Regions from separate parts of the Homo sapiens genome. Here all the other regions are linked to region 1. The links come from fine-mapping of genetic effects on gene expression. A gene starts in region 1. Each other region holds a variant in brackets. All regions are shown on one strand. Distances are from middle to middle.

Region 1 (5,102 bases):
GACTACAGGTGCCCGCCACCGCGCCCGGCTAATTTTTTGTATTTTTAGTAGAGATGGGGTTTCACCGTGTTAGCCAGGATGGTCTCGATCTCCTGACCTCGTGATCCGCCCACCTCGGCCTCCCAAAGTGCTGGGATTACAGGCGTGAGCCACCGCGCCCAGCCTATGACTTCTGAACGCTCTAAGTGTAAGCAGAAATAAACACCAGCTGGTTGTTAATGTTATCTTTAGTCATTTAAAAAGAATTTGCAAGACAAAATTCCAAATCAATTTTCTTACCTAGTGATGGGGCTCAAGCTGAAGACGGCTATCTGTCGATGCAGAAGCAGGCAGGCTTGCCTTCCTTGATGAAGCGAGTGGGAACTCCCAAAAAAGGAGTTTTTTAACAGCAAATAAACCTCAGACCCCCCACCGAAAAACGTTGGAAGATCAGGGATCCCTGGAGGAACAAGGTCCCAGATTTCAGCAATCATCCTACCAGTTTGGGCAATAAGGTGCCAAGCCAATACCGAGGATCAATAGGCGAACTGCTGCAGGCCGGGTTACCTTCACTGAGGATCTCTCAGTGCTTATCAATGTCAATCGAGAAAAATGACAAGTCTTAATCATTTCAGGAGGCTTATTTCCCAAAGTTAAGGACGCCCATGACACAGCCTCCGGAGATCCTGACGACGTGGGTCCAAGGTGGTCGGGGCACAGCTTGGTTGTATTCATTTTAGGGAGTCACGAGATATCAATCATATGTATAATAACAGGCCGGACAGGGCGCGGTGTCTCACGCCTGTAATCCCAGCTCTTTGGGAGACAGAGGCGGGCGGATCACGAGGTCAGGAGATTGAGACCATCCTGGCTAACATGGTGAAACCCGTCACTACTAAAAAATACAAAAAAAAAAAAAAAATTTGACGGGCGTGGCGGCGGGCGCCTGTAGTCCCAGCTACACGGGAGGCTGCGGTAGGAAAATGGCGTGAACCCGGGAGGCGGAGCTTGCAGTGAGCGGAGATGGTGCCACTGCACTCCAGGCTGGGCGACAGAGCGAGACTCCGTCTCAAAAACAAACCAACAAAAAAAAAACAGGCCGGGCGCGGTGGCTCATGCCTGTAAATCCCAGCACTCTGGGAGGCCGAGGCGGGCGGATCACGAGGTCAGGAGTTCAAGAACAGCCTGACCAACATGGTGAAACCCCGTCTCAACTAAAAATACAAAAATTAGCCGTGCGTGGTGGCACGCACCTGTAATCCCAGCTACTCAGGAGGCTGAGGCAGGAGAATTGCTTGAACCCGGGAGGCAGAGGTTGCAGTGATCTGAGATCACGCCACTGCATTCCAGCCTGGGCGACAGAGTGAGATTTCATCTGAAAAGAAAAAGAAAAAAAAAAAAAAAAAAAAAAAAAGAAGGACATTGGTTCTGTCCAGAAAGGCGGGGGCAACTTGGAACAGGGAGGGGGCTTCCAGGTCACAGGTAGGTGACAGACAAATGGTTGCAGTTTCTGGGTTTCTGATAAGCCTCTCCAAAGGAGGCTATCAATATGCATTTATCTCAGTGAGCAGAGGAATGACTTTGAATAGAATGGGAGGCAGGTTTGTCCTGAGCAGTTCCGAGCTTGTCTTTTCCCTTAGTTTAGTAATTTTGGGGCCCCAAGATTTTCCTTTCAGAAAAAAGAAAATGTGGTATATATACACAATGGAGTACTATTCAGCTCTAATAAAAGAATGAAACCCTATCATTTGCCACAACACGGATAAACCTGAGGATATCATGTAAGCAAAATAAGACACAGAAAGACAAATACCTCATGATCTCACTCATGTGGCATCTTTAAAACGAAGTTAATCATTAAGATATTTACCAGTTGTCTGAGGTATTGGGTTGAATTTTCTTTTTTTTTTTTTTTTTGAGACGCAGTCTCGCTCTGTTGCCAGGCAGAAGTGCAGTGGCGCGATCTCGGCTCACTGCAACCTCCGCCTCCCAGGTTCAAGCGATTCTCCTGCCTCGGCCTCCCGAGTAGCTGGGACGACAGGCACCCGCCATCACGCCCCGCTAATTTTTTGTATTTTTAGTTGAGACGGGGTTTCACCATGTTGGCCAGGATAGTCTCGATCTCCTGACCTCGTGATCCGCCCGCCTCGGCCTCCCAAAGTACTGGGATTAAAGGCGTGAGCCACTGCACCCTGCCTTCCAAATTAAAAACTTTTTAAAACCTCGTACCTCGCCGTGGGCGGCGACCGTCGCGGACTCGCCGGGAAGACGGCCCCACGGAGCCGGGAACACCGCCCGCTGTTCGTATGTCCGAGGTGACGCCCCGCTGTGGCGGGCTGGCGGAAGTGACGCGCTGCTGTGGCGCGCCGGCGGACGTGACGCCACTGTCGCTGCGACGATAAGGCCTGGCGTTATTGCTTAGAGGCGGCTACCTGGAGCCGGAAGCGCGGCTGCAGCAGGGCGAGGCTCCAGGTGGGGTCGGTTCCGCATCCAGCCTAGCGTGTCCACGATGCGGCTGGGCTCCGGGACTTTCGCTACCTGTTGCGTAGCGATCGAGGTGCTAGGGATCGCGGTCTTCCTTCGGGGATTCTTCCCGGCTCCCGTTCGTTCCTCTGCCAGAGCGGAACACGGAGCGGAGCCCCCAGCGCCCGAACCCTCGGCTGGTACGGACCCCTCCCCGGCGTCTCCGCTCCCCTGACCCCACATCCCCTAGAAGACCTTTTTTCTGAGCCTCGCTGCTCGGATTTCTTCTCGGCGCTCCCCGGTGGTCTCTTCCATTATGGTCCCCACCTCAGAAATTTTTTTTAACCGCTCCAGCGTCTCTTTTCTGTATTCTTACAACTTTGTGGCAACCACCTCTACTGGCCCCACTTCGACCTTCCTTCCTGATCACCACAAAGTAAGCTGTGTCCATACCTGGGATCCAGCCTCTCCACTTCTACTCGTCCAGAGCTCCCGCCCCTTTCCTGAGCAGCCTTTGGGTCACTCCCCGTTATAGGCGCCCTTTTTGCCCCCTAGCACACAACAGATAAGACCCCTGCCGATCCCCTCGCGTTTTGGTCTCTTATATTCCTCCAAGATGTTTTCCCTGCCTAGGGGCTAAGGCCTCTCTGCGTTAGGCCTCTTCCTAGGCTTCACCTACCCAGCCATATACAGCAAGTAAAGGCGCCCTGGTTCTGGACCACTTGCACACATCGCCAGCCGCTGACCATGTAAACGCAGTATGTAAACGCCCAGCCATCCCGTAGCTGCAGCTCTGCGTTTTAGGTCAAGCTCCCTAAATGTCCCATTCCAGGACCCTTACGTAGGGATTCTCCTACCCCAGTACTCTTCACCATACTGAGGATAATTCACTGCTTGCTACTGTGGGTCCCTAAGATTACTCCTGTTAACCCCCGTCCTTTCCCCCCAGCACTACCTACCAAGTACAAGTCGCCTCCTTTTGGGTTGGGTTATGTAGATATCGCAGGGTATGTGCTGGAGAAGTAGGTAGAAGCTAGATTGTGAAGGTGCTTGATGCTAAGGAAAGTTTAGAGTTCAATTTCCTTTTTTTTCTTTCAAACACTTAGGAGCCAGTTCTAACTGGACCACGCTGCCACCACCTCTCTTCAGTAAAGTTGTTATTGTTCTGATAGATGCCTTGAGAGATGATTTTGTGTTTGGGTCAAAGGGTGTGAAATTTATGCCCTACACAACTTACCTTGTGGAAAAAGGAGCATCTCACAGTTTTGTGGCTGAAGCAAAGCCACCTACAGTTACTATGCCTCGAATCAAGGTAAGTTTGCCTTAATGTTTTATGAATCATGGTTTGGCTGTTTTGAAGATTTAGAGGGGGTCTCTGTAGTCTTTCGCTTGGAGTTGCAATTTTAAGAAAGTGGAAATTTTGTGCTGTCAGTTGGCTGGGGCAATAGAATGTTGAAGGAGCCTCACACGGGATGGAACTGAGACCCATCATTTGTGCCCCATGTCAAGTAGCCAAAGCTCATGCTTCATGGCAAATATAAAAGATTTAGAGCAAGATCATCCAGGCTAACCTACCCCAAGATATGCCATTCTTGGTGACCTGCTTTCTTCTTTAATCGTCACTGGGTCATTTACAATCTTAGAAGGAGCCTTTAGAGTTAATCTAGTTCAGTCTCTAGACTTTATAGATAGGAAAGCAAACTCAGATAAGTTAAATGTGACTTCTCCAAAATTATCCACCAGTATACATAATGATCAAATCAGTATGTTCCGGCCTCAACAATTACCACTGTTTCCACCATATCCTTCAGGTGTCCAGCCTACTGACAGCAGCTTTGAAGTACATAGTGCATTTCCCAAGAACCGTGGGTAAAGAAAAAAGTAAGCCTTTATTGATTGGCTCAAAACTTTTGAGCAACGACTATGTGGTGATACTTCAATGGGTATGCAATTGGGGAAAAAATAGTATCTCTGCCTTCATGTAGCTTTTAGTCTTTAGATATACAGCCACTCAACAAAGGAGCATATGAAAACATGCAGTTGTAAAGTGTGGTTAATGCATGATGAGAAAGAACAGGATGTGATGATTAGTGGGTGAGAAAGCCTGGCTGAGGAAATTGCATTTAAACTGAGACTGGAAGGATGAATAAAGGTGGGGACAGAAAGGAGCAGAGGGGTTGAAGTGTGTGAGTGTATCGCATGTGAGCGTGGCATAAAGTCTCTGACGGAGCCTTAGCTGTGTTGTTGATCATGTGAAACATTATTTGGTGAGAAGGAGCTACTTATTGATTTAAGGCTTGGGGGCAGCCCCATTTGCAGATGCTTGGCAGATGTTCACTGGATGAAAGCAGTCTGAGACTGAAGGAAGCACAGTGCCATATCACTCACTGACTTTTTCCTTGAATTTCTTACTCTCTCTGCCGCATTTCAATGTGATGTGACTTCCTTCAGCAATATTTATTGAGCATCTACTGTGTGCCACACTGTTCCAGACAGGAGGGAGGCAGTGAAGAACAAGACAGCATTGTCCTCATGGAGCTTACTTTCTAATTGGAGGGATAGAAAATCGGTAAAATATGAATCAATGAAGATGGTTTCAGACAGTGACAACTGCTCTGGAAGGAATGGAGAGGGAGGTGAGAGAGAATGAAGGGGAGAGG
Region 2 (5,102 bases), 32 kb after region 1:
GAGGAGGAGGACCCACCAAAGGCCCTGGATGATGCCCCTCCTGCTCATCACCCTGCCTGCCCTAGCATCCTCTCGACACAGAAACCAGTCCCTTTTCTTCTATGAAACTTCTCCAGTGATTGTGACCTTTGCTGATTTCTCCCTTCTTTGAATGCAGATGGGCCTATAATTCACTCTTAACTTAGCACACACCTTGGCCTGTGGGGGTTGCCAGGTACCTGACCCCAGCTCCTCAGCCAGGATGTGGGCCCCTCCTGGCAGCCACACTGCCAGGCACATGGTATACAGTGCTCAGGCTGTTTGAACTAAACTGATCAAAGTTTACTTTCTTAATGTAAAAGCTTTCTAAGAAAATCTAATATAGGAAAATTCAGTTTTCACAATATTATGATATTAAAAATTACGATTATTTTAAATGATCAGATTTGTAGGCTGTGTGAAGCATTTCATTTACAAAATTTATTTAAAATATTATGTTTTAGGAACATACGTGTTTTGTAAGATGAAATTTTTTGGTAATTGTATCCTTTACAGATAACTATCATAAGAGTACTTAATTTTACTGAGCTTACTGTGTGCCAAGCACTCCCTGCATTCCCTTGCTTAATTCCTAGGATGACTTTGTGAAGTGTAGAACCATTTTCTCTCCATTTCACAAATAGCAAAGCTGAGGGTCAGAAGTCTTGATTGACACGCCCGAGTAGGAGAGCTAGTGAGCAGAGCAGCAGGGCTCGGACTGAGCAGAGCTCTGCCTTTTCTCAGAGCCCGCGGGTTGGATGACTGCACCACTGCACGCGTGTGTGCCTGTGAATGTGCAGGTGCTTATTTACCTATAACTGCATGTATGTGTACCTGTAAATGTGCAAATCCTTCTTTAAATCTGCTCAGTTGTGCAATGAACATTTATGAACTTACAGCAGTTTCTTAGAGTTGACTCTTATACTAGTGCGTTGGGTTTTTTTTAATTAACTGCAAAGCAGGCGGGCCACGAGGGCACCGCTTGGGTCGTGCCACCAGATGAGCCAAATGAGCAAGATCTCCCCGAAGCCAGCCCCAGCGGAAGAGTCTGCACGAGGACACACCTGTGGGCCTGTGGCGGCGGCTCCTCAGGGCTGCTGTGCGGAGGAGACATGCCCACTGCCATGACAGGACCTGGGGGGTAGGGAGGGTGCCGCGGCTCCTTTAGTCAGCAGTGCTGGACATTTACTGGTTCCCTGGGTAGATAGGTGTGTTTTTCATGGGAAAATGTTTTTGAATTTTTCTCACTGGTGCTAATGAATCTAACTTGTTTTGCTCTTTTTTAGGGGTATTATTGAAGCTCGTTTTGTTTATGTCTTTGTCCTTGGCATTCTGTTCACGGGCACCAAAGACTTACTTAAATCTCAAGTCATTGCTGCAGACTTCAAACTCAAGACTGTAGGTTTATGGGAGATATATAGTGGATTAGTTCTTCTGGCAGCCTTGCTCTTTAGACCACATAATCTTCCGGTCTTAGCATTTAGCCTCTTGATTCAGACTCTAATGACTAAATTCATCTGGAAGCCCCTGAGACACGATGCAGCTGAGATTACTGTGATGCATTATTGGTTTGGTCAAGCATTCTTCTATTTTCAGGTAGGTTTTCATTATTATCATGGGTAGTAGACTTCATGTTTTACATATTTATTTTAAATTTTTCTTTGAGAAAATGTTCCCATAAGTTGGAAAGTGACTGTCAGTGTGGCATGGTGAATTACGCTGAACTCTCGTGTATTTTATAAGACAAAGTACAGCCGGTTGTTTAAGACACGCGTCCCAGGTGTGGATGTGTGGGTGCTTAAGACAGCAGACTGCTGCTTTGCTGGGCCAGGCCTGGGTTTATTTATTACAAGCAGTTCAGGAAGCACAGACATCACGTTGTTCACTTGCTTCACTGATGAATGTAATAATTGTTCTCGTTCATGCCCTTTGCCCCTGGTGTCGGGGCTGTCCACACTGGGGACCATTGGTGCCCCCATGATTATTAGCTCCCTGAAGCCTGGTGGGTCGTCAGGGCTTCTGTCCGGTGTTTAAAGACCCATCCCAGACAAGCCCAAACCACCTCAGTTTGAAGAGACATAGAGGGACAGGCAGACGGGGCCTCAGAGGGATCCAGCCTCATCCAGCCTCCCGGCAACCTCAGGAGAGCAGGCCAGATGGGGCCTCAGAGGGATCCAGCCTCATCCAGCCTCCCGGCAACCTCAG[G/GCTGGTTCCCTTCC]AGAGCAGGCACAGCCCTGCTGGTTCCCTTCCAGTGCCGACTCCCAGGCTGAGTCGCTTTGCAGCAGCTGAACGTCGTGGTTGCATTTTGGTCTCTACCGTGAGGTCTGTATTTTCTTGGTGTGCACCGGTGTCTGCCTGTCCGCTGTCTCGTACCCAGGAGGCATGTGCAGTTCTTTGTGTCCCTACAGGGCCTCTCTTCCATCCTCTTCTCCTTTCCTGGTGCTCCCAGCCTTTCCCATGGAACAGCCCACAGTTGCAGGATTTTCTGTCTTTATGTCTGTCCCCCTGATCCTGAAGCCCAAAGGTGGTAGGCGTGAAGTTACAGAAGTCTGTGTCTTCAGGTACAATGAGTAGGTGGCCAATGGCCAGCTTCTTAGCCCCGTCCTGGTGCTTCCCCGACCCTTCTGATCCGCTCAGGCCCCTGTCCTCCTCGTACACAGCTGCAGCTCTCCCTGCCATGTCCACGCAAGGCACAAGGGTGTCCCCAGCAGAACTGCAGGCCTGGATGCTGGTATCCAGCACGTTCAAGCCAGGTGGCCTCCGGCAGGCTCTTGCCACACCTTCGTTTCCTTATCTGTAAACCAGGGATAGTGGTCTCCCGGCCTCCCCAGGACCCAGCCCTCCCTGGTCTCCCCACCTCCCCGTGGCCCCTGTTTTGAGGCTGAGTCCGCTGCCCCTCAGTGTTAGATCTCCTCTGAGAGGAACCTGTGGCTTTGCTGCCCATCCCTACTTCCTGCCCTCGACTGGGCAGTTCCTTAACAGATCAGGGATCAGGAACATGACTGCCCTTGCTCATCTGCTGGCCCTCCACATTTGCCCAGTCCCTGGGTCTCTCTGCCTCCGTTTCCTCCCTGTTTGATGAGGATAATCACGAAGCACATCAGGACTGTTGGGTTAGATGAAGTCATGCAGGTAAAGCTGCTGTGCAGCTGCAGACATGTCAGCATGGCTGGCAGTCTCTGTGCTTGGCTGAGCCTGCTCAGAGCCACAGTGACCTCCTAGGTGTCCTCCTCCCCTGCTCCCATCGTGGCATCTGGGACTCTGTCCCCCTGCCACCCTCCAGGGTCTCCTACTGCTTCTGCCTGTTTGCTCTCTCCTCAGTCTCCCTGCAGAAGAGCTTCCAAGTGGAGGAGACACATGACTGGGGTGGCACCGTCCAAGAGAGGCAGTAGCTGCGAGTCCAGTGGGTCTCAGGGCAAGCCAAGTCAAAGGGCTGGGGCCTAAGACAACAGGGATAGGAGTCAATGCACATCTGTGAGATAATGGGGAAGCAGCATCAACATGACTTGGGGACCCCCTGGGCCCACAGCTCTCTGCATGGAAAGGGAGGAAGGAGCCAAGCTGGTGAGCACCCAGCCAGTGTTTTGTGGACATGAACAGTTCTGGTTCTGGAGAGGGATCTTCGTTGAGCTTGATAGAGACATGTGCTGTCGGACTGTAGATGTCATGAGTTTCTGAGGAAAGGTCAGCATGACAGGCAAGTGACAGACATCAGAGTCAGTAAAGATGGAGCGTGGGGAGGCGGGGCCTGGGAGCAGAGAGGAGGGGCCTAGGAATGGAGAGGTGGGGCCTAGGAGTGGAAGGGTGTGGTCTTGGAGTGGAGAGGCGGGGCCTGGGAGCAGAGAGGAGGGGCCTAGGAATGGAGAGGTAGGGCCTAGGAGTGGAAAGGTGTGGTCTTGGAGTGGAGAGGCGGGGCCTGCGCAGAGAGGCAGGGTCTCTCAGAAGACCCCTTTTTGGGATCCAGAATCACTAGGAGCAGGGTAAGCTGTGTGGCATCAGCGCTTGCATCCTGCAGGGAGTTACCTACCAGGGCTGGGCCGGGACTGGCCAGAACCTTGACAGATGAAGTTTGACCAGACCAAGTGAGTCCTCATGGTCTGATACGTAAGCCAGATGTGAGTTACCAATTTGCACCAGGGGCTGTGCTCCCCCAGTGGCTGGCCTGCCCTCCACCATATAACCCACTGGCAGCACCTCACCGTAGATGGGACCTGGCTGGGTGCCCGTTCTAGTCTTCAGCCCAGCTCCCCGCTTGGCTGGGCCCAGCAGCTGGCCTCTCAGGGCCCTATGCGCCCCTCGGATGGGGGTCCTTGAGGGGAGCTTCATGTGCTTGTCTTAAGTCGATGGGTCTGGACAAGGGTCTTAGATGTGGCACAGTCAGCCAGCCGGTCTGTGTGTGCGTCCCTCTTCAGAGGGGGCCCCAGCTTCTGCACGGTCCGCTCACGTGCCCTTCCGCAGCCTGGGCACTGCAGGCAGGGGGAGGGGGTGCCACCTAGGCAAGGCCAGCTCGGCAGTCTGAAGGAACGGCTGGGCAGCCACCTCTGACCACACGTGTGTCCGTGCCGGCGTGGTTATCTGGGCTGCCTACACAGTTCACGCTAACATCGTGGCTCACGCTAACATCGTGGCTGTTGATGCCACGTGTTGTGAGGCCTTTGTCAGCTCTTCTCCTGTATTCCAGGGCAACTCCAACAACATTGCCACCGTGGACATCTCCGCAGGCTTCGTGGGCTTAGACACCTACGTGGAAATCCCAGCCGTGCTCCTGACAGCGTTTGGGACGTACGCAGGGCCTGTGCTGTGGGCCAGCCACTTAGTGCACTTCCTGAGCTCAGAAACACGCAGGTGAGGCGCCTCTCTGCCGTCAGCACAGTTCTGGGGGCCGGCTGCCTGGTTTTAAGGGTCGTACTTTGTTCCAGATGCAAGGGGGTCTAAGCTCCATGGGTCCAACAGTCTTTTCAACAGTTTTCTTTTCCTTAAATAGGGAACGGTCCAAAGCTCAAGGGCCAGAAGCCGGCCTGAGGTGTCCGTGTAGGGCCAGGGTCGGGTCTGACGGGGCCTCGCCGGGCTCCCCAGGGTTGGGTCTGACGGGGCCTC
Region 3 (5,102 bases), 39 kb after region 1:
GCATTGGCCTTGCTTCAGCAGTGATAGGCGCGTGCCTTCCCACAGCGGACATGGAGCCTTTCCAAGGGGAGAATCGCTCCCTGGCCAGACTGCAAGCTTCCCGGGGACAGGAATGCCTGAGATCCACCTGCCTTTTCTTCAGGTGCCTGTGGACGCTTGACACGCCCACTTTGGGGCAGTCTGTGGACAGACCCCCGTAATTTACAGTCACCGCTGAGCTTGTCATCACAGCAGAAAGCTGAGGCTCTGCGGGCGGAAGCCACCAACAGACCAGCTTGGGAGACACCCACTGTGGCGGCGCTGTGTGGAGACGTCCTTCCAGACTTCGATTCTGCATAAAAACAAACATCTGCCACGAGACCCCTGCTCGGCGTCCGCCTGTCTCAGCAGCTGCCCTGGGACGTCTTTCTCTGACTTGGTTTTGAGGCCAGCCGCGTGCTCACACTGGCCTTACAGAAACAGGAGACGCCGTCCTCGGCCGTCTGGGGTGGGCTGTCAGCACGTCGTGTGGTCAGGTGTCAGGACAAGCGGGCGTGAGCGCGTGGAGGTGCATCTGCCTCTGCCCTGGAGAACGGATGTGCTACAGCTGTGCGCGGCGTGATCAAGCACCTGTTGGGTGGACGGCACACCTCCCAGTGGCCAGCTGGAGACGGAGGGCTGGAAGTACTTGCCCGGCTCCTCTCTCTGTAGGTTTGGTCTTCGGCCTTGCAGCTGCCCTGGTGCTTGCAGATTGCGGTTTGATGGACCAGGCACTTTTCATCTCTTACACAGCCAGGCACGTTTGTGTTTGGGAGGGAAAAAGACAAATATTAAGTGAGGTGAAAGCATTTTGATCAACTGGAGAGTATCATGATATTTTTCCTAGTCAAGAAGCATTTCTCCTTCATTTTATAGGGTTTTCTTCTTCCCTTTTAAAAGTTTAAAGCATCAAGTTTTACTCATGGTTTCTATTTTGTTTCAGTAGAGTAGGAAAACTATAACCAGGTCTAAATTGTAGACAGAGAAAATATGTTTCCAAAAGGTCAAAAACGTGGCCTTGAGTGGTTGGCGACCCTCTGTTCCAGGGGCTGGCACCCCGGGCTGCCTGCTCCCCTGCAGCGCAAATGGCTCTTTGCTAAAGTGGTGGGAACAGCAAGCCGCCATCTTCTAGGTGGGTAACGCTATAAAGTGTTAAACTGAAGTCAAGGTGGTGCCATGTCTAAGCCACAGCTTCCCCATGCGCTGTCTGGGTAGGATGGGGCCACGGCCCACTTAGCCACGAATCTTCCTGCCCAGTATGTTCACCTTTTCCTGGGTGTTGCTGTCACCAGGAGGTGTATTGAGGATACCTTGGGGTCCACCTCCCTGTGGGGTCCCCGGCCTGTGGGGCTGGATACCAAGTGGTGACCAGCGGTACGGGTTTGGGGGACCCGCCTAAGGAGCCAGGGCCTGGCAAGGAAAGCAGTGAAAGGACCAGAGGCACCGGCCACCCACCGGGAGATCCCAGGGTCTGAGTATTTTACTGGAGCACATGGCGGGCTGAGGTGAAGGAGTGTTTGGAGAAGCCAAGAGGAGGATGGGCCCCTCCAAGGCCTGAGATGGGGAGCCGGTGGGGGGCTGAGGTGAGGCTGTGGAGGGGCCAGAGACAGCCCCGTCCTTGGCCCTTCGTGGCTGTTGACACCCTTTCCTGAGCAGTGAGCACTGAAGCAGGAGCCACTTACAGGACACCCTCAAGTAATACCTGGTGGAGCTGCTGGGCTGACAGGACTGAGGAGCCCTTTACAGGACATGCATGTGGGGCCCAGACACACATACGTGCCGACAGGACTGAGGAGCCCTTTACAGGACATGCAGCGGGACCCACACACCCACACACACGTGCTGACAGGACCGAGGGGCCCTTTACAGGACATGCAGCGGGACCCACACACCCAGACACACACACGTGCCGACAGGACTGAGGATCTGGGGGCTGCCTCCGGGCCCTTTCTAACAGAACTTGATCAGAGGTCATGGATGAGGCATGGAAAGTGCCCAAATAATGTAATTTATCATTTTTCAATAATCACAGACTCAGGGAAGTTGCTTTGAGGAAGAGATTTATGTAGTGTGTTGGTGGTTTCAAAACTAGGGGGTACATTAACATACTTCGAGGGGTGGCTCTTATTCCGAGAATTTGCTCAGCAAACCCCGCTGGGCCAGTGTCCCCAGACCAGAC[A/G]GTCCTCCACACCACAGCAGGGAGAAAAGCTCAGAACTTGTATTTATGTTTATTTGTATCTCACCCTTTTGTGATTTTCTATTCATCGTTTGTATTTTATAATGCATGTGATATAGTAGCACATGCATATATAATTTTTAAATAACTGCAAAGTCTGGGGGGTGCGTTTTTCAGAGCTGTTTTACAGATGACGGTGGCAGACAGTGGCTGAGCAGTTGGGGCTGCAGCTCATGTCCCCTCGGGCACCTCCGTGCCTTCTGGAGACTCAGACCTCTGCCCACCCCAGACCAACCACATCCAGATTTCTGTAGGGGGGGCTCCAGAGTGGCACTTCCAGCACATACTGTAGGTGATTTTTACATACAGTCAAGTTTCAGAAGCATTTCTGGAGAGCTCAAGGTGTGTGTGGGGGGGGACATGGTGGCCCTCACCCATCCTTCTGTTTGCTTCATTTTTCTTCATGAATTTGTCTCTTCCTGACATGTTACATATCTGGTTTCTCCTGCCTCCTTCACTAGAACACAGCCTCCAAGGGGGCAGGTTGGGTTTTCCCGTCTCCAGCGCATCTGGAGAGGCACCTGTCCCAGCACCATAGTGACTGGATGTGTGTGCAGAAGAAGGAACGCGGTGCCCTCTACTCCAAGGGCAAGAGCTACTGGAGTCTTTTTGAAAATAAAAGTGTTGTTACATGTGTGATATGTAAGTGGCATGTGCTAATACACATTTTCTTTCTTATTAACAGTGGTTCAGCACTGAGTCATGCTTGCTTCTGCTACGCACTGATTTGTTCTATTCCAGTTTTCACGTACATCGTTTTGGTGACATCTCTGCGTTATCATTTATTTATATGGAGTGTATTTTCTCCAAAACTTCTCTACGAGGGAATGCACCTGCTCATTACAGCTGCTGTCTGTGTATTCTTCACGGCAATGGATCAAACCAGACTCACACAGTCTTAGACTAAGCTGAACACTGGAAAAATAATACATGCTTAAAGTCTGCTGTTATTCTAAAATGAAAGATATGAATTCAACAAAGTTGATGGATAACTTTCTTTGACTGCTCTACCTGAATTTAGACTAAGCAGTAAATAGTTTAATAAAAGATCACTTTAATATACAGTTTGTATCATATTTTCCCCCATTGACAATCACTCTAGAAGCTTCTGAACTTTTAATTTCCTCTGAATAAGCTATGGTGTGACCCAAATATGTGTGTTTAAATCAATGAATGAAAAGGTTCTGGACTTTGTTAGAGTCCAGGAGCTCTGTGGGAGGAGGCACCCAGATTACCTTAGGGAGCACAGAGCTCTTAGAATCCTACAAACCACTGAGGGCCCCAAGGCGCTTTGGTTTATGAGGGTTACATGTATCAGTGTTTATGGCATTTGAGATGAAAACTAAGATAAAAAAGTATTCATTTATAAGGAATCTATTGCATATTAATGAAACACTTGAAGGAAAAGTAACTATATTTTCCAAAACAAAAAAATTCAGTGAGACCCAGCACTTTGGGAGGCCAGAGTGGGGGTATCACTTGAGCCCAGGTGTTTGAGATCAGCCTGGGAAACATAGTGAGACCCTCATCTCTCCAAAAACTTCAAAAAATTAGCTGGGCGTGATGGCACACACCTGTGGTCCCAGCTACTCAGGTGGCTGAGGAAAGAGTATTGTTTCAGCCGAGTTCAAGGCTGCAGTGAGCCATGATTGTACCACTGTACTCCAGCCAGGACAACAGAGTGAGACTCTTGTCTTTAAAATGAAAAAATAAATGTTTAATGAGAAAAGTGATAATGTTTTACATTTTTACAAACCTCTTTAATGCCTGGCCTAATTGAAGCTAGTTGGATTTTGTGTTTGACCTGTTGTGATATGTGTGTTTGGTTACAATATAAGAAGAAAATCGGCTGGGCAGAGTGGCTCACACCTGTAATCTCAGCACTTTGGGAGGCTGAGGCGGGGGCAGATCACCTGAGGTCAGGAGTTCAAGACCAGCCTGGCCAACATGGTGAAACCCTGTCTCTACAAAAATACAAAAATTAGCCAGGCATGATGACAGGTGCCTGTAATCCCAGCTACTTGGGAGGCTGAGGTGGAAGAATCGCTTGAACCAGGGAGGCAGAGGTTGCAGTGAGACAAGATTGTGCCATTGCACTCCAGCCTGGGTGACAGAGTGAGACTCCATCTCAAAAAATAATAATTATTATATATATATGAAGAAAATCCAGCCTCAGATCAGTAGTTGGAAAGAGGAGGCATATTTTAATGTCCTTTTTCTGATTATTGTGGATGTTCTTTTTTGATACCAACACCAAATCTTTTTTGATGCCAACACCAAAACTCAACAAATGTTAGTTTGCTGAAGGTTAGTTGGACAAAAAGAAAAGAAACGAGTGCATATAAAAACTGGTGAAATGCTACTGAGGGCTGTATTCGAATTAATAGAATTGTGCCCACATCATTTTCCTGGTATTTATCTGGTTGTGTAAGATACCATCATTGGGGGGAGGTGGGTGAAGGATATGTAGAACTCTCTATACTATTTTTGCAACTTCTTGTGAGTCTTCAACTATTTCAAAACAAAAGTTATTTTGAAAAAGAAAAGGTTAGCTGCCATGTGGAATCTGAAATCATATCAATGAACTTTCATGTCCTGATGCATTACGACACATTGACCTGTCTTGCACCCTGAATGGAACTTTTACCCAGATGTGATTCTTAACATCTGCATTGTTGTTTGGAAAATAACAGTTCACTGGATGATAGAAATTTCCAAATGTTGTTCATTATTCCATACCAAAATCACTTATTTATATCACAACCGAGCTCATCAGAAAAGTCTTTAAAGAGTGAATGGTGGCTCACGCTTGTAATCCCAGCACTTTGGGAGGTTGGGGAAGCAGGAG
Region 4 (5,102 bases), 85 kb before region 1:
AATGCATAGCTGCTGTCATCCAAAGTATACCACCTTTTTCTTCAGCACTCTGTGTCAGGGGAACCCATCTTTGACAGCCCCCTAAAAACCAAAAATGTGGACACATATTCTACATTTCTCTTTCTCTCCTGAGGAAGAAGCATAGAGTTGGGAGTTTCTCCTTGTTTTCACCATACTGTATTGGGAGGAGGTAAGGATGTACTGAGCATGTGTAATAACATTTTTCTTCTCTTCTACATGTTTTTGGCATTTTGCTAAAGTGAAGTAGTACATATTCTTAACTATGTTTTGGAATTCCCACAAAGGCGATGTAATCAATATGGTGCTAAGATCATTTATCTATGAAGAAATGAGGATCAGTGGTTTTTGTTCTTGCAGTTTAAATTGATATCTTTATTACTTTAATTTTTAATTTTTGTGAATGCACAGTAGCTATATATCTATGGGTTACATGAGATTTTTTTTTTTTTTTTGAGATGGACTCCTGCTCTGTCGTCCAGGCTGGAGTGCAGTGGCGCCATCTCGGCTCACTGCTAGCTCCGCCTCCCAGGTTCACCCCATTCTCCTACCTCAGCCTCTCTGAGTAGCTGGTACTACAGGCGCCCGCCACCACACCTGGCTAATTTTTTTGTATTTTTAGTAGAGACGGGGTTTCACTGTGGTCTTGATCGCCCGACCTTGTGATCCACCCGCCTCGGCCTCCCAAAGTGCTGGGATTACAAACGTGAGCCACTGTGCCCGGCCAACATGAGATTTCTAATGTAGGCAAGAAATGTATAAAAATCACATCAAGGTATAGGTATTCACTATCTCAAGTATTTGTCCTTTGTTTTACAAACAATCTGATTTCATTCTTTTAGTTATTTAAAAATGTATAGTTAATTTGCTTTTGACTATAGTCACTCTGTTATATGAGCAACTACTAAATCTTACTCTAATTTTTTTGAAACCATTAACTTTCCTCACTTCCTCCCAGACCTGTAGTATACTCTCCAGCCTCTGGTAACAATCCTCCTTCTAGTTTCATGAAATTAATTTAATTTTTAGCTCCAGCAAATGTGTGAGAACATGCAAAGTTTACTTTATATGCCTGGATTATATCTGTAAACATAACGACCTCGGCCGGGAGCGGTGGCTCACGCCTATAATCCCAGCACTTTGGGAGGCCGGGGCGGGCGGATCACGAGGTCAGGAGATCCAGACCATCCTGGCTAACATGGTGAAGCCCCGTCTCTACTAAAAATACAAAAAATTAGCCCGGCGTGGTGGTGGGCACCTGTAGTCCCAGCTACTTGGGAGGCTGAGGCGGGAGAATGGCGTGAGCGGAGATCGCGCCACTGCACTCCAGCCTGGGCAACAGAGTGAGACTCTGTCTCAAAAAAAAAAAAAAAAAAAAGCATAATGACCTCTAGTTCCATACTTGTTGTTGCAAATGACAGGATCTTATTCTTTTTTATGATTGAAAAATATTCCATTGTGTATATGTACCACATTTGCTTTATCCATTCATCTGTTGATAGACACTTAGGTTGCTTCTAAATCTTGGATAATGTGAACACTGATGCAATAAAAATGGTGGTATAAATATCTCTTTGATGTCCTGATTTCTTTTATGTACCTACTTAGGAGTGGGATTGCTGGATAATATAGTAGCTCTATTTTTCATTTTTTGAGGAACCTCTAAACTGTTCTCCATAGTGGTTGTACTAATTTACATTCCCACCAAGAGAGCACTAGAGTTCACTTTTCCCAACATCCTCATCAGCATTTGTTATTGCCTGACTTGGATTAGAGCCATTGTAATTGGAGTAAGATAATATCTCATTGTCATTTTGATTGCATTTCTCTGATAATAAATGATCTTGAGCACCTTGTCATGTGTCTTTTTGTCATTTGTATGCCCTCTTTTCAGAAATGTCTATTCAAATTTTTGCCCATTTATAATCAGATTATTCAATTTTATCCTATAGAGCTGTTTGTGCGCACTATGTATTCTCGTTTTTTTTTTTTTTTCTGATGGGCAGTTTACACATTTTTTCTCATTTTATGTGTTGTCTTTTTGTTAATTGTTTCATTTGCTCTTTAGAAGCACTTTAACTTGATGGGATTCCATTAGTTCATTTTTGCTTTGGTTGCCTGTGCTTGTGGGGTATTACTAAAGACATCTTTGCCCAGTTTAATTTCCTGTAGAGTTTCAGCAATGTTTTCTTGTAGGAGTTTCGTAGTTTGAGATCTTAGATTTGTCTCTAATCCATTTTGATTTAATTTTTTTATATGACAAGAGATGTTGTCTAGTTTCATTCTTCTGAATATGGATATTCAGTTTTTTTAGCACAATTTATTGAAGACTCCTTTCCCCAGTATATATTCTTGACACCTTTGTCAAAAATAAGTTGGTTGTAGATATGTGGATATGTCTCTGCATTCTCTCTACTGTTTCACTGATCAGTTTCATGCTGTTTTAATTACTGTAGCTCTGTAGTATCATTTAAAGTCAAATACTATGATTCCTCCAGTTTATTTTTCTTACAATGGCTTTCGCTATTCTGATTCTTTTGTGGTTCTGTCTACATTGTAGGATTGTTTTTTCTATTTCTGGGAAGAATGTCATTGATGTTTTTCTAGAGGTTGTGTTAAGTCTGTAGATTGCTTTGGGTAGTATGGACATTTAAAAAATGTTGATTCATCCTATCCATAAACATAAAATATTATTCAGTTTTTTGTCTTCTTAAATTTCTTGCATCAGTGTTTTATAGTACTCATTGTAGAGATTTTTCATTTCTTTAATTTCTAGGTATTTAATTTGAATTTGTTGCTATTGTAAATGGGATTAGTTGATTTCTTTTTCACATTGTTCACTGTTAGCATGTAGAAACACTACTAATTTTTAAATCTTAAATCTTCACTAAATTCATCAATTCTAATCATGTTTTAGT[GA/G]ATTTGGTTTTTCCAAATATAAGACCACATCATCTGCAAACAAAGATAATTTGGCTTCTTCCTTTCCAGTTTGGATGGCCTTTATTGTTTTCTCTTGTCTCATTGCTCTAGCTAGCACTTCTAGTACTATGTTGAATAATAGTGGTAAAAGTGTGCATCCTTTGTGCCTCTTCTTTTTTCTTCTTCAGATACAGACACTTTATCAGAACGATTTGGGGTTTAGGTTCCCAACTCTAGAAGGTAATTTGTCCTCAGCCATCCTGTTGTCTTGTCCTGGTCCTAGGCTTCAGAACTGTCTGGGGAAGATCCCAGATGCCCACGGTAGCCATGTGTCTTCGAGTGCTTAGGGCATAACAGTTACTGAATCATCTCCTCATAGTGGACGGCCTCAGGTGTGGGGTGGACCCTCTCGGAAGCAGCTGGGTGACCTGGTGCTCAGAGCACTCTTGTGGTTTACGCTTCATTCAAAAAGCCACATCCTTGTGGCATTAAGATTTTCTTTCTCCCAGTCCAGTTTCCATTTTTTGGAATCACATTGCTGCTCAGCCAATGGAATGCTGATACTGAGGGGAAAGGCAGAAATAATTTCTACCATCTGGATTTTTTCAGAATTGTGAAGGGAGAAGAATATAGTATCCCCAGAGACAAAGTCCATTCTAGCAAGATGGTGCATGGACCTGCACCCACACACACAAACACACACACACACACACACACACACAAAACACCACTCCAGGCACACATGGGGATGCAGTGCAGAGGCTCTTGGGAGGGTGGTCATTGAGTACTTCAGTGAGAAGGATAAAGGTGTGAGGATGTACATCACACGACAGACAGCCCAACTTGACACTTGAGTCAGACATATCATTATTCCAGCCAGTACTGCCACTCCTTGGGTTTGTCATCTTGAAAAAAATGTTTATTTATTTCAACTTCCATTTTATTAACTGTACAATGCATTTTATTGGTAGAGTTTGAAAGATAGGAGAATATTCTCAAAGAGGCATAAATATGTAAACTTAAAAAATGTCTAATGGTATATTTGTTAAAAATTCTTTCGTTTTCCCTTGACACGTGTAATAAGTTTTTCAGATCTGTATATTTTGGGAGTGGTTTCAAACAGAACCTCAGGGCCTAGTTATGGGAATATTACTGGGTTAAAAAAAGTAGGAAACATTTCTCTTCCTCTATGGCTGCAGAGAACTGAATGCATTTTTAGAAGAAATTTTGGTAGATAAATTGGTGATTTAGAGATGTGCCAAAATATCAGTTTCTCTTTTCTGCGTGGTGGGGAATTTGTAGTAATGAATAAGTCTGCTCTGTATGCTGTTATCTGGATGTCTGAATTTAATGTTAAATTTTATGGAATAGGACTTGACATTCCTGGTTAATGTTCATGTATGATTTCCTATTTGTTGTTATGGAAATAATACCTAAATGATTATTGTCTGAAATTGATATATATTTTGGTTTTTCTTGTTGAAGTATAAAATGTAAGTGCCTTACAATCTCCTTTCCTCCTATAAACATAAGCAATGAGTTTGAGGAATTTTGCTGGTTTCTTTAAACACCGAGTTCTTTTATATAAAACTAAGTGAATAATCTTGACTGGGAATCAGAGACCTAAGACTGTTGACTGCAAGGTAAGGCCAATCTTGACCCTGCCAAAGGAGGTCATCAGTAGCCCGGTAGTTTCTTCCTGGGAACATTTTCTGCAGGTGTCCCAGCCTGGCTCAAATTAGACATGAAAGGAGCCTTTATACTGAGAAGCTACAGAGCCCTGGAAAGCTGAGGATCCACAGGCAGATGCAGTGAGAGTTGGGATGGGAGGAGGGTTGTGATGTCCTCTGAGAGGGTGTAATTGTTATTGTCATCGGGCTGTTTCTAGATATCATCAAATAAAATAAATTCTGATGTAGGTAAGAAGTGACTTTATTTTAAGGAGTATTGCAATGGAAAAAGCACTAAGCACAAGATCTGCAAGCACCTCCAAAATGAGACAGATAAGGGTGATTTTTCATATGGAGGATCAAACGATTAGAAGGAAGATGGGAGGGAGAAGGCAGAATGGAGAATGAGAATGGCAAAATCAGATTCAAGATTAGAGAATGTTTCACCCTGAAGTCAGCCTGTTCTTGGGAGGGGCATCAAGAGGGTTGTATGCT
Region 5 (5,102 bases), 23 kb after region 1:
CTTTGCAGACCAGTCTAATCACAAGTGAGTGTGGTCCCGGCAGAGGCTCACGCATCAGCCAGCTCGGGAAAGAAAGAACATCAGCTGTGCCGTGAGCAGCATGGCACTGTGGTTTAAAAGAGGTTGCCATAGCAGAGGGGCAGGGCTCCATCCAGAGGCAGGGCATCCATGCGCCCAGCAGAGCTCACCCTTGTGAGCAGAGAGGGCTGGAAGCTCTCTTTCCAAAGAGGTTGTAAGGAAGTAACCCAGGCTGCAGAACGGGGGACGTTAGAGGTCGGGAAGGGCCAGTCTGCACTGGGGAAGTGGGTGTGGCAGAGAAGGGTCAGGCCGCTGCCTGCCCAGTCCCCATACAGTGCTGTAAGGGTTAGAAAGACTCTAAAACCTGACTGTTGACATAATGCATTTCAGGATTGTTTTTATATTGCACGTTGACAAGAAGGAGAGAGTGGAAAGAGACAGAACAGGGAGAAGGAAGTAAGAGCGATGAGGGAGGCAGAGAAGGAGGCCAGGCAGCACAGGGGTCAGTCACTGCCATCCGCGGGTGTATGCCAAGGACCAAGGCCTGCATCGCCAGAGGGCAGATGGATGCACATTGGCAGCTTTCCCAGCTTTACAGAAGGCGTTGCAGACCCCCCACCCAAAGGAATGATTGATCTTCATTAAGCGTCAGTTGTGAAAAGTGAAGGCTTTGCCGTGTGCCATGCATAACCGAATACTTTGAGATTATGTATATAAATGTATGTTCACGGTGTGTGTGCGCGCCTGTAACCTTTCTGTCTTCTTAATAGATCCTGGGTTTGAGCAGTTTAAAATGTCAGAAAGATTGCATGGGAACTGGATCAGACTGTACTTGGAGGAAAAGCATTCAGAAGTCCTATTCAACCTGGGCTCCAAGGTTCTCAGGCAGTACCTGGATGCTCTGAAGACGCTGAGCTTGTCCCTGAGTGCACAAGTGGCCCAGTACGACATCTATTCGATGATGGTGGGGACTGTCGTGGTTTTGGAGGTACAGATGCTCACACAGTCATGGCTCAGGTGTTGCATTGATTTGATAACTCAGCCAAATATTTATAGTTTTAAATATATATATAGGTGTTATTAAAAATGGGAAAATATTAATTTTCTTGTTTAACTCTTTCGTGGTGTGTCCTGATTTGTGACAAGACCCAGAGTATTGTCAGTGTCAATTGGCCTCACTCAGTATTGCTGCAGGTGATAAAAAAAAATCATGCCATGCATTTTGGGGCAGTTAATTAGGAATCATCTTTTCCTGAGCTTGCTTTTCTGTTTTTACTGTGTGGACAGCTGACACGAGAGCGGGAGCTGGGCTTATTTTTAAGTGGGTTTCTCCAAGCCCAGCAGTCTGTGGATGCTGCTGTTTCTCTGTTCCAGGTTCTCACCCTGCTCCTGCTCAGCGTCCCACAGGCACTGCGCAGAAAGGCTGAGCTGGAAGTCCCACTGTCATCTCCTGGGTTTTCTCTGCTCTTTTATTTGGTGATCCTGGTTCTTTCGGCCGTTCACGTCATTGTGTGCACCTCAGCTGAAAGTTCGTGCTACTTCTGTGGCCTCTCGTGGCTGGCGGCAGGTGGGGTGATGGTGCTGGCCTCGGCGCTGCTGTGTGTGATTGTGTCTGTTCTGACCAACGTGCTCGTGGGTGGAAACACCCCAAGGAAGGTACGTACGGCTGGTTCCTGGGAGTGTGACGTAGTCCTTCTGCTCAGGTTGTTCTTGTTATTTCAGGCTGCCTTTCGTTTACCAGACTCTGGTTGAACACCTGGTGTGTGCCACGTGCTGGCAGTGCCCTGGACAGGGGGCCTCAGGGAAGGACGTGGAGCAGCCTTATCCCAGGCCTCTGGGTGTCCCGACACAGGTGTTCACATCTGTGCTGTCAGGTCAGATGCCTCAGTTCTTGGAAAGCTAGGTTCCTGCGACTGTTACCAAGGTGATTGTAAAGAGCTGGCGGTCACAGAGGAACAAGCCCCCCCGCTGAGGGGGTGTGTGAATCGGACAGCCTCCCAGCAGAGGTGTGGGAGCTGCAGCTGAGGGAAGAAGAGACAATCGGCCTGGACACTCAGGAGGGTCAAAAGGAGACTTGGTCGCACCACTCATCCTGCCACCCCCAGAATGCATCCTGCCTCATCAGGTCCAGATTTCTTTCCAAGGCGGACGTTTTCTGTTGGAATTCTTAGTCCTTGGCCTCGGACACCTTCATTCGTTAGCTGGGGAGTGGTGGTGAGGCAGTGAGGAAGAGGCGGATGGTCACACTCAGATCCACAGAGCCCAGGATCAAGGGACCCACTGCAGTGGCAGCAGGACTGTTGGGCCCCCACCCCAACCCTGCGCAGCCCTCATCCCCTCTTGGCTTGAGCCGTCAGAGGCCCTGTGCTGAGTGTCTGACCGAGACACTCACAGCTTTGTCATCAGGGCACAGGCTTCCTCGGAGCCAGGATGATCTGTGCCACGCTTGCACCTCGGGCCCATCTGGGCTCATGCTCTCTCTCCTGCTATTGAATTAGTACCTAGCTGCACGCAGTATGTAGTTACCAAAAGAATAAACGGCAATAATTGAGTCCTCATCTTTACTTTTGACTGCTTTAAGTTAGTATATTTAAGAGACAGTACTGTGATGCCAACTTTGTCATTTCAACAGAATTAACCATTTTAGTGGAAACGTTCTGGATTTCTAGAATATTCCTGGAGAAATTTGAG[G/A]TCTGGTTTGGTGGGATGTATTGTTGAGGTTCTTTGGTTTCAAGAAGCAGGCACTGGCGACGTGCATCTGAAGACCTAAGCTCTTCCAGAGCCTGGAAGCGGGAGCGTGGAGGGCCGGGTCCAGGAGCCTTTGGGCAAGCTCTCTGGGCTGCACCACTGCCCAGAGGGTTCTGACCATTTTCAGTCTTTGTCACTCACCTTGGGACTTGGAGTCCAGTGTGAGAACAGCTGGCTGGCCGTGCAGTGTCCGGCTCCCCTGCCTGGGCTGAGGGCGTCTCCACTCCTGCAGGCTGCGTCCCAAGAGGAAGGTTCCTGCCGTTGGAGCAGAAGGGGGCTGTTCCAGAGTAGGGGCCCAGGTGCTGGGTGTGAGGAACAATGGTGTGTGTCCAGGGCATTCTCTGCTGTGAGCAAGGACTTGACATGCAGCAAGATGTGTGTCGTTATCAGACCGTCTCTTACAAAGTGCACTTTCCTTTTCACAGAACCCCATGCATCCCAGCTCAAGGTGGTCAGAGCTAGACCTTCTTATTCTGTTGGGGACGGCGGGCCACGTCTTGAGCCTGGGCGCCAGCAGCTTCGTGGAGGAGGAGCACCAGACCTGGTACTTCCTTGTGAACACCCTGTGTCTAGCTCTGAGCCAAGAAACCTACAGAAACTACTTTCTGGGAGATGACGGTGAGCCTCCGTGTGGCCTCTGTGTGGAACAAGGGCATGACGGGGCCACAGCAGCGTGGCAGGACGGGCCTGGCTGTGATGTCCTGGAGCGAGACAAAGGCCACGGAAGCCCCTCTACCTCCGAAGTGCTCAGAGGCCGCGAGAAGTGGATGGTGCTGGCCAGTCCGTGGCTAATACTGGCCTGCTGCCGGCTGCTGCGCTCCCTAAACCAGACAGGTGTGCAGTGGGCTCACCGGCCTGACCTCGGCCACTGGCTCACCAGGTGAGAGCGTAGGCCCGTGGCCACAGGCCAGACTTTCTACGGCCGATTGGTCACCTGCCAAGCTCTTCTTTTTCTAAATTGAGACCATTTTTCATATTAAGAATGGGATAGTATTTGAGATCTGAAGAATTGGGAAAATACACTAAAACCAGTGTTTTACTGGATACTAGAATCAATGTTGAGAAGTGAATTTATTTGGGGGCTAGCCTAACAGGTTTCATTTATTAGTGCTGAACCACTGTAACTGTTCATGATTGAAAACTTGTGTTTCAGTGATCATTATATAGTAAAGATGCTATGTGGGGGTCAAGCTTGCTAGTGGCTTGTTCTGGACGCCTCGTCCATGCCTGGGCTGTGTGCCCCCCGCCCATCACTCAGTGTCTGCCTGTGTCAGGCCATTCGTGTGTTGCTATAAAGAAACACCTGAGGCCGGGTCACATGTAAGGAAAGAGGTTCATCTTGGCTCTCAGCTCTGCGGGCTGCACAGGAGGCATGGTGTCGGCATCTGCTCCTGGAGAGGCCTCAGGAAACTGGCGGTCATGGCGAGGGCAAAGCAGGAGCCAGCACTTCACGTGGCGAGAGCAGGAGAAAGAGAGGGATGAGGAGGGTGTCCGGCACTTTTAAACATCAGCTCTCTTGTGAACAGCCACAGCGAGAATGCGCTCATTACTGCGAAGATGGCACCAAGCCATTCGTGAGGAATCTGCCCCCATGACCCAGACGTCTCCCACAAGGCTCACTTCCAACACTGGAGGTTCAGTGTCTTTTTTTTTTTTCTGAAACGGAGTTTCACTCTGTCACCCATGCTGGAGTGCAGTGGCACGATCTTGGCTTACTGCAATCAAGAGATTCTCCTGTCTCAGCCCCCTGAGTAGCTGGGATTACAGGCGCCCGCTACCATGCCTGGCTAATTTTTGTGTTTTTAGTGGAGATGGGGTGTCACCATGTTGGCTGGGCTGGCCTTGAACTCCTGACCTCAAGTGATCCACCCACCTCGGCCTCCCAAAGTGCTGGGATTACAGGCGTGAGCCACTGTGCCCAGCCTGAAGGTCCAAGTTCAATATGAGATTTGCAGTGGACAAACATCTAAGCCATGTCATTCCCCCAGACCCCTATCCTGCTGCTGATGATCCCCAGGGCAGCAAGAAGGACGGGGTCAGCCAGGCAAGGCAGGCGCAGCCTCTGTGGGCCAGCTTTGCCCTTAGCAAAGCTCCTTTCTCCTCCCCATCCTCCCTTTTCTCTCTCCTCATCCTGAAGGGACAGAGCCGTGTGGGGGAATTCAGCCACCTCCTGAGCCTTTCATTGGCGACTGGAAAACCACCTAGAAAGTATAGCAAATCATTTCAAGCAAGGCTCGAAATAAGTAGAAGAAACCAGGACAGAAAAATAACTAAGATTTGCCGAGACTTAAATTTTAATTGTCTGGCAGTGAAGACTTAGGAAACTAAAGCAAAAG

Which allele goes with the higher level. Alleles are on the strand shown, and positions count from the first base shown. SD is a standard deviation of normalised expression in the study named. Not every link is listed here.
With allele G in place of A in region 3, the expression in aorta of the gene that starts at base 2,363 in region 1 is higher (moderate effect, 0.42 SD a copy in GTEx).

What was found. PIP is the estimated chance that this variant, and not a neighbour inherited with it, causes the effect. A credible set is the group of variants that fine-mapping cannot tell apart.
Region 2: its variant is the best candidate, but not a certain one, in a credible set for the expression of PIGG in whole blood (INTERVAL, PIP 0.83).
Region 3: its variant is the best candidate, but not a certain one, in a credible set for the expression of PIGG in aorta (GTEx, PIP 0.81).
Region 4: its variant is the best candidate, but not a certain one, in a credible set for the expression of PIGG in whole blood (TOPMed, PIP 0.87).
Region 5: its variant is the best candidate, but not a certain one, in a credible set for the expression of PIGG in lung (TOPMed, PIP 0.68).

What each region holds. Positions count from the first base shown.
Region 1 is chr4:496,848-501,949 of GRCh38, forward strand. PIGG (phosphatidylinositol glycan anchor biosynthesis class G (EMM blood group)) reads left to right here and starts at 2,363. Exons shown (of 13, transcript NM_001127178.3): 1 at 2,363-2,642; 2 at 3,549-3,754. The coding sequence starts at 2,489. ZNF721 (zinc finger protein 721) reads right to left here and starts at 2,309. Exons shown (of 3, transcript NM_133474.4): 1 at 2,209-2,309. RefSeq lists enhancers at 1,595-2,460, 2,024-2,503, 2,461-3,324.
Region 2 is chr4:529,132-534,233 of GRCh38, forward strand. PIGG (phosphatidylinositol glycan anchor biosynthesis class G (EMM blood group)) reads left to right here. Exons shown (of 13, transcript NM_001127178.3): 11 at 1,305-1,614; 12 at 4,687-4,850. Among named protein-coding and RNA genes, the nearest start is that of PIGG, 32 kb to the left of the region's middle. The variant G/GCTGGTTCCCTTCC (reference allele first, on the strand shown) is at 2,224.
Region 3 is chr4:536,214-541,315 of GRCh38, forward strand. PIGG (phosphatidylinositol glycan anchor biosynthesis class G (EMM blood group)) reads left to right here. Exons shown (of 13, transcript NM_001127178.3): 13 at 2,940-3,987. The coding sequence ends at 3,156. Among named protein-coding and RNA genes, the nearest start is that of TMEM271, 38 kb to the right of the region's middle. The variant A/G (reference allele first, on the strand shown) is at 2,198.
Region 4 is chr4:412,287-417,388 of GRCh38, forward strand. No RefSeq gene overlaps it. Among named protein-coding and RNA genes, the nearest start is that of MIR571, 65 kb to the left of the region's middle. The variant GA/G (reference allele first, on the strand shown) is at 2,937.
Region 5 is chr4:520,268-525,369 of GRCh38, forward strand. PIGG (phosphatidylinositol glycan anchor biosynthesis class G (EMM blood group)) reads left to right here. Exons shown (of 13, transcript NM_001127178.3): 7 at 789-1,006; 8 at 1,393-1,674; 9 at 3,192-3,646. Among named protein-coding and RNA genes, the nearest start is that of PIGG, 24 kb to the left of the region's middle. The variant G/A (reference allele first, on the strand shown) is at 2,710.